Regions from separate parts of the Homo sapiens genome. Here region 1 is linked to region 2. The links come from fine-mapping of genetic effects on gene expression. Tissue or cell type: whole blood. Region 2 holds a variant in brackets; the other region holds the start of a gene. All regions are shown on one strand. Distances are from middle to middle.

Region 1 (8,090 bases), 170 kb after region 2:
TTAAAACAAGTCTTGGCTCATATCATTCAACATCCTCCCCACACTATTAAAATATCATCTTAAGACGCTTACTGTTTGATCATTTTTAGTTTAATTCTAAATGTAACAAGACAAAACTGCCTTAAGTCTTTTCCTTTATGTATTCAGTTATATTCTCTGCTTAAAATACTTAAAAATTGGCACTGATCCATTCACTGATGGGTATTTTAAGTTACAAAGCAGTAACATATCAAATTAACCACACAATGGCAGGCTTACTCCCGACTATGACCATTGCCCAAATCAAGATTTTCATTACCACCTCAATGGACTTGAACATTTTCACCTTAATTGCAAGTTGTTATGTTTCAATCAAATCGACTTTGGCTTAATAGACTGCAATGCAGTTCAGCTACATTCAATATAACAAACCCTTAGTTCACAGTCTCTTAAAATCACCATAGATTTCCTTCCCCTGTAGTCAAGGTCTTGAAAATTCCCTGAATGTTGCTGCATTTGGAAGGTTATAATAGTAAGACAACTTTTATATAGTATTCTACAAATCCTAGTATAACACTGTGCACCTAGTAGACTGAAAAAACAGAATCTTGAGTTAGACTTGGAAATCATCCAAACAACCTCAGTTCACAGATGCAAACACTGATGCCAAAACCTGACCTTAACATGCCCAAGGTCAACAGTTAGAATTTAAGAAAAACTTAAAGCGCAGATTCAATGAGCGTTTTACCACAGTATGTGGAAGATGCTCGTATACAACACCATGCTTGTTTGTTCTTAAGACTGCTGACATATTTATTCTCACATTATACTATAAACTTTGGTGCACAGAAGGTCATATAAAACATTTATCTAATATCAGACATTGTCACCTAAAATGAAATCAAACCAGAAATACATGGCATCTAAGGGTTTTAGATTTCATGTTTATATTACACCTCCATTCTTTTTTCAAAAATAATATAGTAAAGAAAATAGACATTTTGAAAAAAAAGGCTGTGAAACAGACCTTTCTTATGTCAACTCAGAGCCCTCAAAATAAAGACAGTTGGATAAAAATATTAGAGGTGTTTTAGCAATTCTTCCCACAGTAGCTGGCACTGTATGTGCCCAATATATATCTGTTGAATGAGTAACATGCTTACATTTATATGAAATGGAAACTTCACTCCTCTGGTTGTGGATACTTAGAACTGCCAACTTCTCTTGAGAGCAAAAGAAAATAACACCAAATGTACTATTTACAAGTCATACACTATGAAACACTTAAGTAGTTTCAAAATATTTCCAATTAGCAAGAAACTCTAAAACAAATGTAGCAATTCATAAATATAAGGTAGCAACGTAAGTGGTTACAGTAAAACATACACAATTACAAGATTTTTTAAGGCAAACTGGAATTCAGACGAGTTCCCAGAAAGCACACTCTTTTTCGGCAGCATATTGTTGACACTACCTTACTAAATTAAACCCCGAGACAGAAACACTCTCCTGACCAAAACACCAGAACTCCAAAGGAGATAAAAGCACCATAAATATGAGTAAGCACTACAGTATTCATCCTTTTTTTAAATTGTAAGTTTCTATTCTAGTAATAAGGGACCCAAAAACTACTAACATAAATAATAAAAGAGCTTAACAAAATTATACATAACTCTACATTGTAAACTTATTACTTAGGAAAAATTGCATTTCATTTTCCGTAATAAAACTTGAGAGAGGAGTTTTTGGTGCAGTAATGCATGCTCTTGTAACAACTTACATTCCCAAATAGCTAAAGAAGTTGCCAGGAAGTTAAAATGAACTTCAGTGAGTCAGTCATTAAGCTGGATAAAAATAATCATTTCTCAACTTTTCCAAAAACACTCACTCCATGCAAACACGATCGATCCTGATACTGTTTTGCCCTTCCCCCTGCTCAGCTTGGGGAAGAAAAATACAAAAACGATGCTTTTAGGCATTTTAAACAACTTCACTACATTGAGGGTGTGTGTGTGTGTGTGTGTGTGTGTGTCTGTGTGTGTGTTTTCCGAAAAACCAGCATGGTTTTCTGTCATTTCCATTACGCTGAAAAGGACATACAGACATCCATCGAAATCAAAAGCAGGGAAAGCGAACTTACACTTTTCCCCAGATGCTAAGTGACTGCAGTGGCTAAGGTCATGGTCAAAATTCACAGCTCGTTTAAACTTTCCTGGCTGAGCCAACAGCTCCGATCATGTTTCCTGATCCTATCGAAGTGGATTAAAACTGCAGGAGTTTCTCGCTGTCAGATCAGCAGGAGGCTATTTCAGACCCTCGAACCGCAGTCCGCATAGCCCGCAGCGGCGCATCCTCCAATCCCCGACTGTGCGTGACGCTAACCTTTCCACGCGTTCTCCAGCCTTTCCCACACCCCCCACAGCGGGTGCGGCCAACTCGGGACCCCCTCCGCCCGCGCCCGCCGGGACCCCCGCCTGCTGTCCCCGCCCCGGCCGCCCTTCCGCAGTCGGTGACTTCTGCCTGACTCCCCAAAGTGGGGGGAGGCGACGAAGGGAGGAAGACTCCCCGCCAAGGGCTCTCCAGCCCGCACAGCGGCAGGGCGATGCGGGAGAAGCGCAGGGATGCCGCCCGACGCCAGAGCCATATTTACATCGGCTGCTGCTTTGCCAAAAAGCCGACTTGTGCCCAGTAATATTGCCTTTAAAGGAAAAAGAAAGGACCTAAGCACTAAAGCTGCTGCCCCAAATCTGCTCGCGCTCCGGTATCCTCGCCCCAGTGCCCCAGTGGGAGGCTCGCACGCGCCCAGCCCGGGACAGGTACACCTGCCCGCAAGCGGAAGACGCGGGCGCCGCGCGGCCCCCACACCGGGTAGCGGTCGCCCGGACCCGGCCCCCAGCAGCTCCCGCCGGGGCTGACAGCCGAGGCGCCGTGCCCCGCACAAACTTCCTACCTCCCAGGCTGCGGGGACCGACCTGCGGGCGGGCGGGCGGACCGGGGGCGGCACTGGCACCCACCGTGAGACTCACATGCACACGGGACCCCCGACCCGCACCGGGCCATAGATCTAAAGGGGACGCAAGTGGTGGTGCCTGGGCGGCCCAGAGGGCTGGGGGCACGCGCCGCGGGGCTGGGGGCTTCGAGGCGGGCGAGCAGCCGGAGGTCCAGGGCTGACTCCGGCTCCCCGCCCCGCAGCAGCTGCAGCCGGAGGAGGAGGGGAACGAGGAGGAAGAGGAGGAGGAGGAAGGGGACCGCGCGCCGCAGCTGAGCCCTTACCGAGTGGTTTACCCCCCACATGAGGACGCTGAGCAGCGGGTCGCTGGCCCGAAACAGCTTCACTTTCTGCGCTACGAAGTGCTTCTTCTTGGTCTTGGTCTTGCTCGCCAGGACAGAGGACCCTAGGTTGCCGGGGGTCGCCATGGCCGCCTCCTATGTCCCCTCCACCGCCGTGCTCCCGAGGCCGGGGACCCGCCCTCTCTACACCCCGGCCCGGGGAGGCAGCCGCATCCCCCCGGCGGCGGCCCCGGCGCGCCGCGCTCCGCTCCGCCCGCCGCCGCCGGCGCGCTCAGCCCCACTCGGCTCGCTCCGCCCGCTCGGCCCGGCAGACTGCGCTCGGCTCGCGCCCCGGCCCGTATCCTGCGCCCGCCGCGGATCCGCGCTCAGCCCGCGGCTGGACCCGGCGCGCGGCGAGCGGCTTCCGCGTTGGGCGCCGGCGTCATGACGCAGGGGGCGGGCGGGCAGGCGGGAGGCGGCTGCGGCGCCGCGGGCGGGGCACTGGGTGCGGGGCGCGGGGCGCGGCAGCTGGACCGTTAGGCTGCGCCTTCCCGCCCCGGCTCCGCTGCAGCCGGGCCGCCCCCTGTGCGCGGGCGACCTCCGGGCGTTCGCTCCCTGCCCGCGGAGGAGGCCGTGGGTTGCGAGCGGGAGCCTGGGGACCCCGGCTAGGCGTCCCCTGCCGCTCCCCAAGGAGGGAGAGGACAGAGTGGGCAGAGTGAGGAGGTTGGGGAGAGGAGCCCCCAGGCGTCGATCAGGCGAAGGAGGGAGGCTCATGCACTCACCCACGCCACGAGTCAGGAGACCCAGCCAGGTGTGAAATGCTGCAGGGAGACCAGGGCTTCCCAGCACCGAGGGGAAGGACCCGGGCACATTGCCGGGTCAGTCCCTGAAATGAACTTAATACTTTTGTGCGGATAACCGTCTGGCCTTTCAGACCCTCGATATGGGCCTCCTGGAGCCATTCAAGAGGGAGACTCCCACGTAATAGGCTGGGCTGTCACTGCCAACCCACTCCGTGCCCGGGGCAGGAACCTCGGACCTCATCGAGAGCCCTTGGCTTAACCAGTAGAATCATGCCCCAAAGTGCACCTTCTTCCAATCCATCACTATGGTACTTGCCATCCCTGCCTGTTTTCCAGTGCACTCACCGTCCGTGGAAATCTGTTCACCGTCTTCCTCCAGATACACCTAAATGTAGCCCTTATTATGCTGAGAATACTTGGCCTACCTCAGGAAGCTGCCATTCCAAGTATGTCTAAAACCCTGCTGCCCCCATATCGTCCTTGCAGTCGTCATCCTGTGCTATTTACTCTGACCCAGCTCACCAGTCCTCACGGAGTAGGTTCTTGGAAACTGTCACCTTAAGCAAAACAACATATAACAAAACCAAATTTGCCATAGGCTGACATATAAAAAAAGAGTTAAGTTCCTACAGCATTATTTCCGGTTACAAAAACATCACCGAACTTCAAAGTAAAAATTCAAAACACTTCTAATATTAAACATTAAAATAAATGTGAGCTATACCTCTTTTTTATTTTTATTTTTTCCCTTGAGATAGGGTCTCGCTGTGTCAACCAGGCTGGGGGTGCAGTGGTGCAATCACAGCTCACTGCAGGCTCTACTTCCCCAGACTCAGGTGATTCTCCCACTTCAGACTCCCCAGTAGTTGAGACTACAGGCGCGCACCACCAAGCCTGGATAAACTTCTTGTATTTTTGGTAGAGATGGGGTTTCACCATGCTGCCCAGGTTGGTCTCGAACTCCTGGGCTTAAGGAATCTGCCCACCTTGGCCTCCTAAAGTGCTGGGAATACAGGCACCAGCCACTGCACCTGGCCTACCTACATTTTTTAAAGATTGATAAAAACAAGATAATGGTTTGCCAAATTTCTAGTGATTAAGTGAGCGATGGTTGCTGTGGTGCTGGGTTAAGTCAAGGAATAAGTGTTTGCAAAGCAAAAGTTGCCTGTAGGACCTGCTGCTACCATGAAATTCAAAAACAATCACAAATATGGTAGCTGAGTGCACTCCTATCTCATTTATTGTCGTGCATTTTTATGATTAATGTACACTTACATATTTTTATTTTACAGTCATTTGTTTCACGGATTTATTCATTTTTCCAACTCATTTATTCCAGTTCAAGGTCACAGATAGTGGGAGCCTTATCCCAGCTGCTCAGCTTGGGCAAAAGGTGGGAACCATCCCTGGATAGGATGCCATTCTGTTGCAAGACACACACACACACACACACACACACACACACACCACACACACACACACACACCCCTACACTCACTTAAACTGGGACCATTTAGGAAGGGGGCAGTGATTCATGCCTGTAGTCCCAGCACTTTGGGAGGCATGAGGCAGGTGGACTGCTTGAGCCCAGGAGTTGGAGACCAGCCTGAGCAATATGGTGAAACCCCATCTCTACCATAAATACAAAAATTAACCAGGCATGGTGGTACACACCTGTAGTCTCAGCTATTCTGGAGGCTGCAGTAGGCGGATTGCTTGAGCCCAGGAGTTGGAGGCTGCAGTGAGCTGTGATAATGCCACTACACTCTAGCTTGGGTAATAGATGGAGACCCCGTCTCTTAAAACAAAAAAAAAAAAAGAAAAGAAAAACTACTGGTATCATGTAGACAAGCCTATGAACTGAACGTGCATGTCTTTAAGATGTGAGAGGAAACCAAGGTACCCAAAGAAAACTCTTGCAGGCACGAGGAGAACCTGCAAATACAAACAGTGGTCCCGGCTAGAAATCCATTTTTTTCTCATCAACATTATAACAAAACAACATTGAACAAAATGACAGTATTTGAGGACCCGCTGTAAGTTGTCTGTTGTCATTATTACTCCACTCAAATATAGTAGATACCTTCTGTGCCCTTGGCAGACTGCTTGGTCCTGTCAGGGAGATGAAGGATGACAGGCCATTATCCCTTTAGGATCTTGAGTCTCCTCAGGGGTTGAGGGGAGGTCATGTGGTCACCTTCATTTGCTCCTATTCTTTCTTTGACTGTTTTTTAAGTCCCCTCGTCGTAATTTCCTGCTTGCTTTCATCCAAAATGATATCTGCTTCTCCAGCATCAACCATCACTGCTCTTAGTGGTTTAAAAAAGCCCAAAACCTAAATTTTTAGTGAGACATCACGGGGACTGAGCTGTAGCTCTCCCACTTACTTGAGCAAATCACTTAACCTCTCCCAGCCTCGGGTTCTTTATGTTAACAGTAACTATCATCAGACACAAATGTCACTTTAGGAACTATTTTGAACCTAGTAATATAATCCTCCCCTACCTACATTATAGGATGTTTGTTAGAATCAAAATCAATAGTAGATAATGGCAATGAAAACCCTTTGTAAACCAGACAACACAATAGAAAATGTAGAGTGCTTGCAAGTAACTCATAAACTCTTCCCCGACCCCAGAGAAATGCCTGGTTGCACATTTGTACATCATTTTTCCACAGGCATCTTTTAAAAGTGTCTAAAACCATCTGGGCATGCTGGCTGATGCCTGTAATCCCAGCACTTTTGGGACGCCAAGATGGGAGAATCACTTGAGCCCAGGAGTTCAAGGGTAGCCTGGATATAATAGCGAGATCTCATTTCTACCAAAAAAAAAAAAAAAAATTTAAATTAGCTGCACATGGTGGTATGCATCCTGTGGTCTCAGTTACTTGGGAGGCTGAGGCAGGAGGATCACTGAGGCTGCAGTGAGCTATGACTGCACCACTGCACTCCAGCCTGGGCAACAGAGCAAGACCCTATCTCAAAAAAAAAAAAAAAGATATCTAAAGCCAAGTTTGACATCTTTCCCCATCCACAAGTTACTTTATTTCTTGTATTATATTGGAAATGGCATTCATATCACTCGGTTACCCCAGCTGGAAGTTCTTTTATTTAACAAATTTTCATTGGCCAGGCTTGAAGGCTTACCATCATCATCAATTATTGCCTTTCACCACCACCCAACCTAAACTCCTTTATTGGATCCTGCCCTTGAAAACAATTAGACTCAAAAATCCTCTCTTCCCTGATGCTTTCCTGATCCTCCTAATTCAAATTCATCCTTCCACCTCAGTGCTTCCATAGCATTTATTTGTTTCATAATAGCTATATTATACTTAATTTTATATTAATAATGCAAGACAATAGGCTTGCTGCAACTGCCAAAAAACTGAATTTAGTGATGACAGAGTGCTGAATGACCCTAGAGGAAGAGGGGATGGATACCTGTTGTTAGGAGAGGCTCCGCCTTAGGAAAGCAGCAATCTGTGGGTGGGTGCAGAGGCCAATAGCACCATGTGAGGGACAGATAGGGGCATAGTGTGGTATTTTTAGGTAGTTATGAGGAGACTTGCAGGTTTCAAAGGACAGAATTTCTGGTGATTTAACATGTTTTGAAAGCCATCTAACACAATACCATTCACAAATACATCATTAAATTATTTATTTATTTATTTTATTATTTATTTTTTTTGAGACAGGGTCTCACTCTGACACCCAGGCTGGAGTGCAGTGGCAAGAACACAGCTCACTGCAGCCTTGAACTCCTGACCTCAAGCCATCTCCTGCCTTATTAAATGATTTTGCCAATAACCTTTCACATTAGCTTTGTGCTCTGTGGAGGGTATGTGTGATGCAAGAGTTCTAGAGTCACAGAAATGACCTTAGCTCACGCCTGTCATCCCAGAGCTTTGGCAGGCCAAGGCAGGAGGATCGCTTGAGCCCAGGAGTTTGAGGTTACAGTGAGCTCTGATTGTGCCACTGCACTCCAGCCTGGGCAACAGAGTGAGACCGTCTCTAAAAATAAGAAAGAAAAGGAA
Region 2 (8,106 bases):
CCCTAACAACTAAAAACATCATCACACCAGGGTATCAACAGTGGAGATCCAACGGTGGAACGGAGTCTTTTTTTTTTTTTAATTTGCATTTTCTTTAATAATTGTGTATTGCTTTGGTGTGAAGAAATATGCTATTTAAAAATACCCTATAAAACAGAACTAATTATGTACACTAATCCTTTACATCAAATGGTAGAACTGTTCATAATTCTCACTGGATACAGTATCAGAACTGGATAAAGGCATACATCCACTCCAATGTCTATTTTCTTTTTTTGAGACAGAGTTTTGTTCTTGTTGCCCAGGCTGGAGTGCAATGGTGCGATCTTGGCTCACAGCAACCTCCACCTCCCGAGTTCAAGTGACTCCTGCCTCAGCCTGCCGAGTAGCCGGGATTACAGGCATGCATCACTATGCCCAGCTAATTTCATATTTTTAGTAGAGATGGGGTTTCTCCATGTAGGTCAGGCTGGTCTCAAACTCATGACCTCAGGTGATCTGCCTGCCGCGGCCTCCCAAAGTGCTGGGATTACAGGCATGAACCACTGCGCCCGGCCCGTGTCTGTTTTCTATCCATTTCCAAAAATATGAACAGTAAGAAAAGTACATTTGACTATCTAATTTTCTGTGTTGAAGAAAACATTTTGGTGAGCAAAACAGAACAAAACAGAACTCAGATCCTCAGCTGATATGCCATTTGAGATTAAAAAACAACTGATGAGCCACAGTTTTTATTATTCAAAAACCAAGAAGCTGTTTTTATCCTATCACAAAAATATTTTGGTATTGTCACGGATAAGTTGCTAAGGTAGGATGTAATATTCAAATAACTGGTGCACCCAATCACCTGGATACGGTGGATTAAGATTTATCTGACTCTAGGGAAGAGGGCCATAGGCCCTTCCATGGGGGAGGACAGCAGAGCCAGACTCAGCAGCAAATCAGATTCCCACCCCACCCACAGGGCCCATCTTCACACACCCTTCACACCCCTGAGAGGGAGAGGGCTGTTGGTAATGACAAGAGGACAAGCTAAGGGTCACAGAGGATCACATGCATGTGCCTAGCTTAGACTCATGATGCTTTTGACTTAGATAAAAAAGATAACTAGGCAAAAACGTATTAATATTTTAAAGCATTTCTGATGTTATTTGTGAACATGTATGTGTGCATATGTACATGCATGTTGTGTTGTGTGTGCACGTACGTTGTATGCCAGTGTGTATGTGCATATGTACAGGTGTGTTGTACATGTATAGTATAGTTCGTGGTTTTGCTGTATTCCCTCAACATCACAGAATTCAAAGGTCCGATCGCCTTATGTTTCAGCACTGAGATCACGGTTAGCTTTAACATACTCTTGTCCCCAAATCCATTTCTTTGGAGTTTGGAGGATGAGTGCTGCCGGGCAGCACCCTCATAACTGGGGTAGTGCTTACTGGTAGATAACAAGGCCAAAGTCAAACCACTTCACATGCAAAAAGGGTCCACAGTAATCAAACTTACTTTCATGGCACTTAATTCCATAGACGTCGATGTTCGGATCGAACTCCCCGGGAGCCAGGGGTGGTGAGCTGTTCAGTGTATTCCCGGGGCTATCTGGGGGGGTTCCCACCGGGTGGGTGCCATCGCTCTCGCCCTCCTCCTCCCCATCGTTCTCCTCACACTCCACTTCCTCCTGTTCGGCTCTCTCCACATCATGAATTCCCACCAGCAGACTGTAGTCCATGAGCTTCAGCTGGGCCAGAAACTGGGGACAGAGGCAACAGGGTGAGTCAGCCACACCTTAAACATAAAAGCCAACATTTAAAGGAGACAAGCTCGGGTGACACCCAGAGGGAAGGCTGTGGGGTGGGGCAGCAGAGGCGCCGGGTGCCTCCTTCACGATGCTCTTACACTCCTGGGCTGTTTCTCTATCTAAAATGTAGCCTCACACTTCAGGCTGGCTCAGAGCTCAGGCTGTTTACCCTGGAATGCCACACTGGATGCGGAGAGGTGTGTATCTATCACAGGGTGGCTGGATTTCACCAGATAGCAAGGAGCATGACCAGTAAGAGATGCGGAGAGAGACTGGGAGAGAGAGCAAGTTCCTCCCAATGATTAAGACTGGCTAATGGGGAAACCCAGGCATCTCCCAAGTAGCTTCCAGCGGAGTCTCTGGTGGTAGTTCAGGAAAGCACCCTGGAATTCAGCATGCTCTGTGGAGGCGATTGTTACGCTGTTGTAAATAAGTAAAAGTAAAGGCACTGTGTCCACATCTGGTGAGTAATGCAGTCCTGTCCAGGTCAACAAGGTGCTTTCCACGTGTGCTTTCCACGAAGCACCACACATCCAGGATTCCTGTCCTCCCTCTCCTCCTCCAGCCGTGGCTAGAACATAATGTGGGGGCAAGACCCAGCTCTGTGTGTTTGGCTACTCCTGTCTGCCCAGTTCTTTGACTTTTCAGATCACGATTTCTCTTTGTTTCCCTTTTCTTATTTGAGACCTTCAGCACAACGTTCCAATGTTGCCATAAGATGTGGATGGTTGTGCTGAGTGCAAACAGTGGCAGCCCATCTGCGGGCTGGACCCAACTGGCTCCCTGACCCCGTGGCTGGCTGGCTCTGCACAGGATCCTGTTCCACTCCGACCTTGGGCTCAGGGTCCAGGAAGGTTCACGGTCCTGGCTCTGGAAGGACTCAGTGCCACCTCGCTGGGGAATGCAGAGTGGCTGAGCAGCCTCTGGGCTATGCTGATAGAATTTAGGAAGCAGATGTCCTCATGCAAAGGGCAAACAGATAAAATCACAGGTCTTGAAGTTCTGGCTAAAAATGAAATCAATTTGCTAAGCCCCGCAGAGTCATTTCTCCTCAGCCTGCTGGGAAGGAGTTCTGTCTCGAAACTGAATGAGAAGCCCCGATTCCTTACAGACGAGGAGAGGACCCCTGGGCACAGGGCTATCCCACTCTCCAGCTGGTTCCTGGTGCCTGCAATTCTCCATCAGCCAGCACCCCGCTCAGCCCAGCAAACTGGCCAGAGCTCCCACTTCGCTGCCTTCCCAACAGGAATCCCCCAGGGCCAGCTATATCTTCCCCAATTGTTTTGAGCTCAAAAAAGAGAAATCACACAAATCTTACACTCAAATATTTAAGCAAAGTGGGAGAAACCTGTTTGTTTAAAAATAGAGGCAAACCCCTCGTGGAAACAGCATGGGGCTCCTGCGTTCAGCTTTCTGGGTCCCAGAGAAGAGGGGAAGCCACTGCTCATCCCCCCTGGTCTTTCCCCAAACTCCCCCATTACAGTAAACATGAGAACTGACTTTCCACTTGCACCTCTCTCTGCCAGATTCCTTTCCAGCAGTCAGAGACTGCGCATCCTCCCCTAGAATCTCGGCAGCTGCCAGGCTGTGAGGTGCACCTGGCCGAGATCACCTGGCTGGGATCATGTTTGTGGGGGCGGCTGCGGGGAGAAATCTACAGTGGTGGAAGGCTCACTTGAGTCCTCCACCCGCACGGTGAAGCCAGCCAGGGAGCTGGGTCTCGGGTACCAGCTCCGCTATACATGGGCCTGTGGATGTGGAAGAGAACTGGGCACTCCGGGGTATAGGGACAGGTGACAAGATCCAAGGCAGGGGGCAGGCTCTCCGTGTGAGACAGCAGCCAGGCTCAGCAGCTGGACGAGAGTGCAAGGATTCAGATCCAAGGAGGGGTGAATTCAGGGCCTGTTCTGAGCCTGTACTCTCTGCTCTCTATCAGCTACCTCTGGAGGCTGCCTTAAAGCAGCTTTCCCCTCTCCTTTTCTTCGCAACCCTAGGAGGAAGGTAACGAGTTAAAATCAGCTGGCATCGGAGGCCCTCCACACATGACTCTGCGCTGTGGGTCTCCGGAGGGTTAGGTGGCCAGCAGCAGCACACATGGCACTGCTGTGATCATGGAACCTGCTTTCCCGTCAGAATGACCTGTGGG[C/T]CTGGGGTTTCAGAAGCCTATTTGAAAAATACTGCATTGTAAGTACCCAGTTGTCTTCTCCAATGCTTGAGGGGTATGGTGGGGGTGGGGGTGCTTATGGTGGGCCCACTTCTCCCTGCCCTGTTGTTCCAAGGCCTCTGGGCTGCTGGAGGACTGGGTCAGGGTCTCCTTGGCCACCTCTGCTGCCCCTCCCAAGCCTAGCACGGTGCCTGGCTCTGCTCCCTAGATCTACGGCTTCCCTGGCCTCTCTCTCTACACCTGGAAGCCTCTCTGGAGCCAGGCCAGGCCCTGCTCGGCTTGAGAGGTGACAGGGAAAAGGCCCCCCTTCTGCCCACACCTGCTCCCTCTGGGTGCTTGGAAGGTCCCTGTGAAGTGGTAAAGGCTGAGTGGTGCCTCAACCACCCCTCCAGTCCTCTGCAAAGGGCAGAAGTTTTCAAAATGTGAACCTGATCCCATCCTGTTCTGCTTAACACATTTCCATAGTGCCGCGTTTCTCACAGGGCACAAACAAAACTCACATGGCCCAGGAGGCCTGGAGAGCTTGGCCCCATCCACTTCTGGGGCCCACTTGAGCTCTGCTCTGCCCACTTCCTGGGCTTCTCTGGGGGCAGGTACTTCCTCCTGTGCCTTCAGGTCTCAGCTGCGGGGCACTGCACAGGGCAGCACAGCCCCAGAGTCTGGGTGTTTAGGGCACCGCACACTCCTCCCCAGTGACACGGGGCCTCGCTGCACATTCATTTTGTTGGAGTATTTGAGCGACTTCTCTCTTTCCCAAGCAAGGCAGCCCCAAACGGGGCTCTAAGGTTTTGGCTTTCACTGCATTCCCGAATCCCGGCAGGCAGAGGGCTCGGGAAAGTATTCGGCACTTGTTGGACAAGTGAATGGGATGCTTGTTACTTCTTCCCTATCCGTCCCAACTCTCCCTAATTCTCCCCAACCTGCTTCCAGCAGGAAGTAACTACCAAAGCCAAATACAAACAACAAAGCAACAACAGAAAACTTTTGTCTGAGACTGCATGAGGCAACAGCTCTGCAAAGGAAGCGCAAGGTGACCATTTAAGACGATTACCTTAACAGGAAGGTCTACTGGTTGACCTTCAAGTATGTTTTAGTTACAGAAGTCAGGGCTGTCTGTGATTAACTTGCCAAAGGGCAGAGAGGGAAGGGGACAACTGGGACTGGCCAGCCGCACTCACCAGGGTGAGCCTCCAGGGCCCAGCCTCCCCTGGCACCCCATCTGGGTTCCTCGCCACACCGGGCAGCCCAGAGTAATTTTCCTGGGCCTCAGGCCTGTGGTCAGACCGCTTACTGTCGTCTTCCAGTGAGGAAGAAATAAAGGTGCAGTCAACTCCTAGCACAACCCAAAAACCATCAGCATGATGCAAAATGCATCTCTAGGTAAGAAGCTGTTCTGAGGCACCCAAGAAGACTGAGAAAATTGCAGTCACAATGGGCATTGCACATGTTTTCTTTTTGTTTAAGAGATGGGATCTTGCTCTGTTGCCCAGGCTGGAGTACAGTGGTATGATCACAGATCACTGTAGCCTTGAACTCCTGGGCTCAAGCAATCCTCCTGCCTCACCCTCCCGAGGAGCTGGATTACAGAGGTGCACCACCATGCCCAGCTAATTATTTTTTATTTTGTGTGGAGACAGGATCTTGCTGTGTTGTCCAGGCTGGTCTCAAACACCTGGCCTCAAGTGATCCTCCTGCCTTGGCCTCCCAAACTGCTGGGATTATTATTCATGATTTCAAGTCTCTGAGACTGAGGTAGAAATGGGAAAAACCAAATATGGCACAGTGGTTAAAAGGACAGGTCATGCTGACCAGGGAGACCCATTCAAGAAACAAAGAGTCTGATTTGGTCTCACTCGCCAGTTCCATGCTTGACGAGTTCGCCTCCTGGATCTTCAGTCATTCTGACTTTAAAATTGGACAATGCCACTCACCTCACAGGGGTGTCGAAGAATTAAGATAATGAAACTGAGAGAAAAAATATGGTGCCTCACACAAAATAATGGAAGCTGTTATTTGTAACTGGCAATGTTTTGATTATGGTAGAAGTCTTTTTTTAATATCAAGATTTCAATTTAAACAGGTTTCAGTTTGTAGACCGGGGGAAAAAGAACCATATGGAAAAGCCTGTTAATTCACGGGCTCTCATCTTCAAAACGTTAAATTTCTTTTTGAGACAGGGTCTGGCTCTGTCACCCAGGCTGGAGTGCAGTGGTGTGATCATGGCTCACTGAAGCCTCAAACTCTTGGACTCAAGGGATCCTCCTGCTTCAGCTTCCCTAGTAGCTAGGACCACAGGCATGCACCACCACGTTTGGCTAATTTTTAAAACTTTGTAGAGATGGGGTCTCACTATGTTGCCCAGGCTGTTCTCAAACTCCTGGGCTTAATCAATCCTCCTGCCTCAGCCTCCCAAAGTGCTGGGATTACAGGCATGAGCCACCACAACAGGCCTCAAACTTTACTTTAAATCTGTTCTGAGGTAGAGTGAATGAAGTGTGGCAATACATCTGAGATTTTTCGTGGGCTGGAAGCTCGCAGATGGAAAGAGAAGACAGAAAGGGGGCGTGGGCTTCACTGCGGGGTCTGCTTCCGGCTCACTGCAGGAAAACAGTATATATTTGTTCTTTAAGTTTTAAGAACATAAGATTTCAAAGTGTGAAGATTTTTCAGTCTTTATTTAGGTCCCCTGCTTTTCTTCCTTTCCAGCTTCTCAGAAACCACCTGCTGGACCTCACATCTGCCTCTTTTTCCCTCAGAATATCCCTTCTCATCTAATTCCTTACTAATTGAGTCCTTGCTGTGACAAATCTTTGAGCTACAATCTTCCTTGAGATCTTTACGAGTCTAAGACTATCCTTCACAATGGTTCTCAACTGATTTATTTAACTCTACTAACACACCGTGTTCTACCACATCACCATCTCCCAACATATCTGTGAAGTAGAATTAAAATGCCAGTCAGCCCTGTTTAACGGTTATATCTTACCACTTGTTAAAAATTATAATCCTCCTTCGAAGCAATTATCAGAAAACAAAGCCTCCACTGTGCTCTCACAGGTATTTTTAACTTGTGTTTATGTCAGAGTAGTTAAGGACTGTGCCCTCTGAGGGCCTGACGCCCCAGTCTGAATTTAGAAGCTTTGTGCCTTTGAGCAAATTACATAGGGTCTCTGGGCTCGGCTTCCCCATTCATCAAACTAGGGTAGGGGCAGGACCACTGTCAAGGGGCTGTTTTGAGAATGACAAGTGACACTGCATGGGAAGGACTTGGGCTCGATGTGCTCCATAAATGCTGCCACCCATCCCACTACTCCCACCGCCCTATCCCCTCTCACCCATCTCCATGGATGGGGGGCTATAAACCTCAGACAACTGAAATGCCCTGTGAGGGGGTACTCCTGGATGCCACAGAGGGAGAACAGTTTTGCATCATGTGAGTCAATGAGAGGAGAGACCAGGGTTGATTCTTCAGGGCCGTGATCAGAATTGACAAAACACAGGGCAGAAGGCAAAAGTGCCTGTCACTCCTCATACACCGATCTGTGTGTGTGTTTGTGTGCAGAAAAAGACTCACCTGTGTTACGTGCAAAGCTATGTGGATGAAAATACCCAGCATGGCATAGGAATAGAACAGGGCTGCTGTTACAGAAAAACAGCAACTAGAACCTCAGATGAAAATTAGTTTTCCTAAAATCTAGATTTCTTGAGCTGTAATACACTCAGATCTCCTACTCGAGGCATTAAGGAAAAACAGCAACAACAACAAAAAACTGCAATGAAACTCCAATGGGTCAGTCAGCTAAATTAGAAAGCATGGAACTGATGAAAACAGAAAACTCGATTAAATTCTAGCCTCATTATCAAGATCAGATGTCAAGCTACTTCACCATAATTACCTGCTTAAAAATTTAATGATGGTTCTGCATAAATTTCAAAACTAAAGACACTGTTATCAGCTATTGAGAATATTTTTAAATGAAAGGATGTTTTACACCCTGCCTCCATTTCAACGAAACAGCTAAGTGCTTGAGCCATGTATGGGATTAGACTATAGAGTCCTCTAATCAATGGTATTATTAGAGACAACAAAAGAGCTAAGAGGATCCTTCTGTAATTCAACTGTAAATTTGAACTGCTTGAATTA

What was found. PIP is the estimated chance that this variant, and not a neighbour inherited with it, causes the effect.
Region 1: PIP4K2A starts here. The variant in region 2 is fine-mapped to the expression of PIP4K2A in whole blood (TOPMed, PIP above 0.99).

Annotation. Positions count from the first base shown.
Region 1 is chr10:22,710,931-22,719,020 of GRCh38, forward strand. PIP4K2A (phosphatidylinositol-5-phosphate 4-kinase type 2 alpha) reads right to left here and starts at 3,648. Exons shown (of 10, transcript NM_005028.5): 1 at 3,253-3,648. The coding sequence starts at 3,396. RefSeq lists silencers at 2,384-2,493, 2,794-2,913, 3,084-3,163, 3,464-4,133 and enhancers at 3,294-3,902, 3,903-4,510.
Region 2 is chr10:22,540,298-22,548,403 of GRCh38, forward strand. PIP4K2A (phosphatidylinositol-5-phosphate 4-kinase type 2 alpha) reads right to left here. Exons shown (of 10, transcript NM_005028.5): 8 at 1,507-1,750. Among named protein-coding and RNA genes, the nearest start is that of LINC03027, 110 kb to the left of the region's middle. RefSeq lists an enhancer at 3,185-3,816. The variant C/T (reference allele first, on the strand shown) is at 3,945.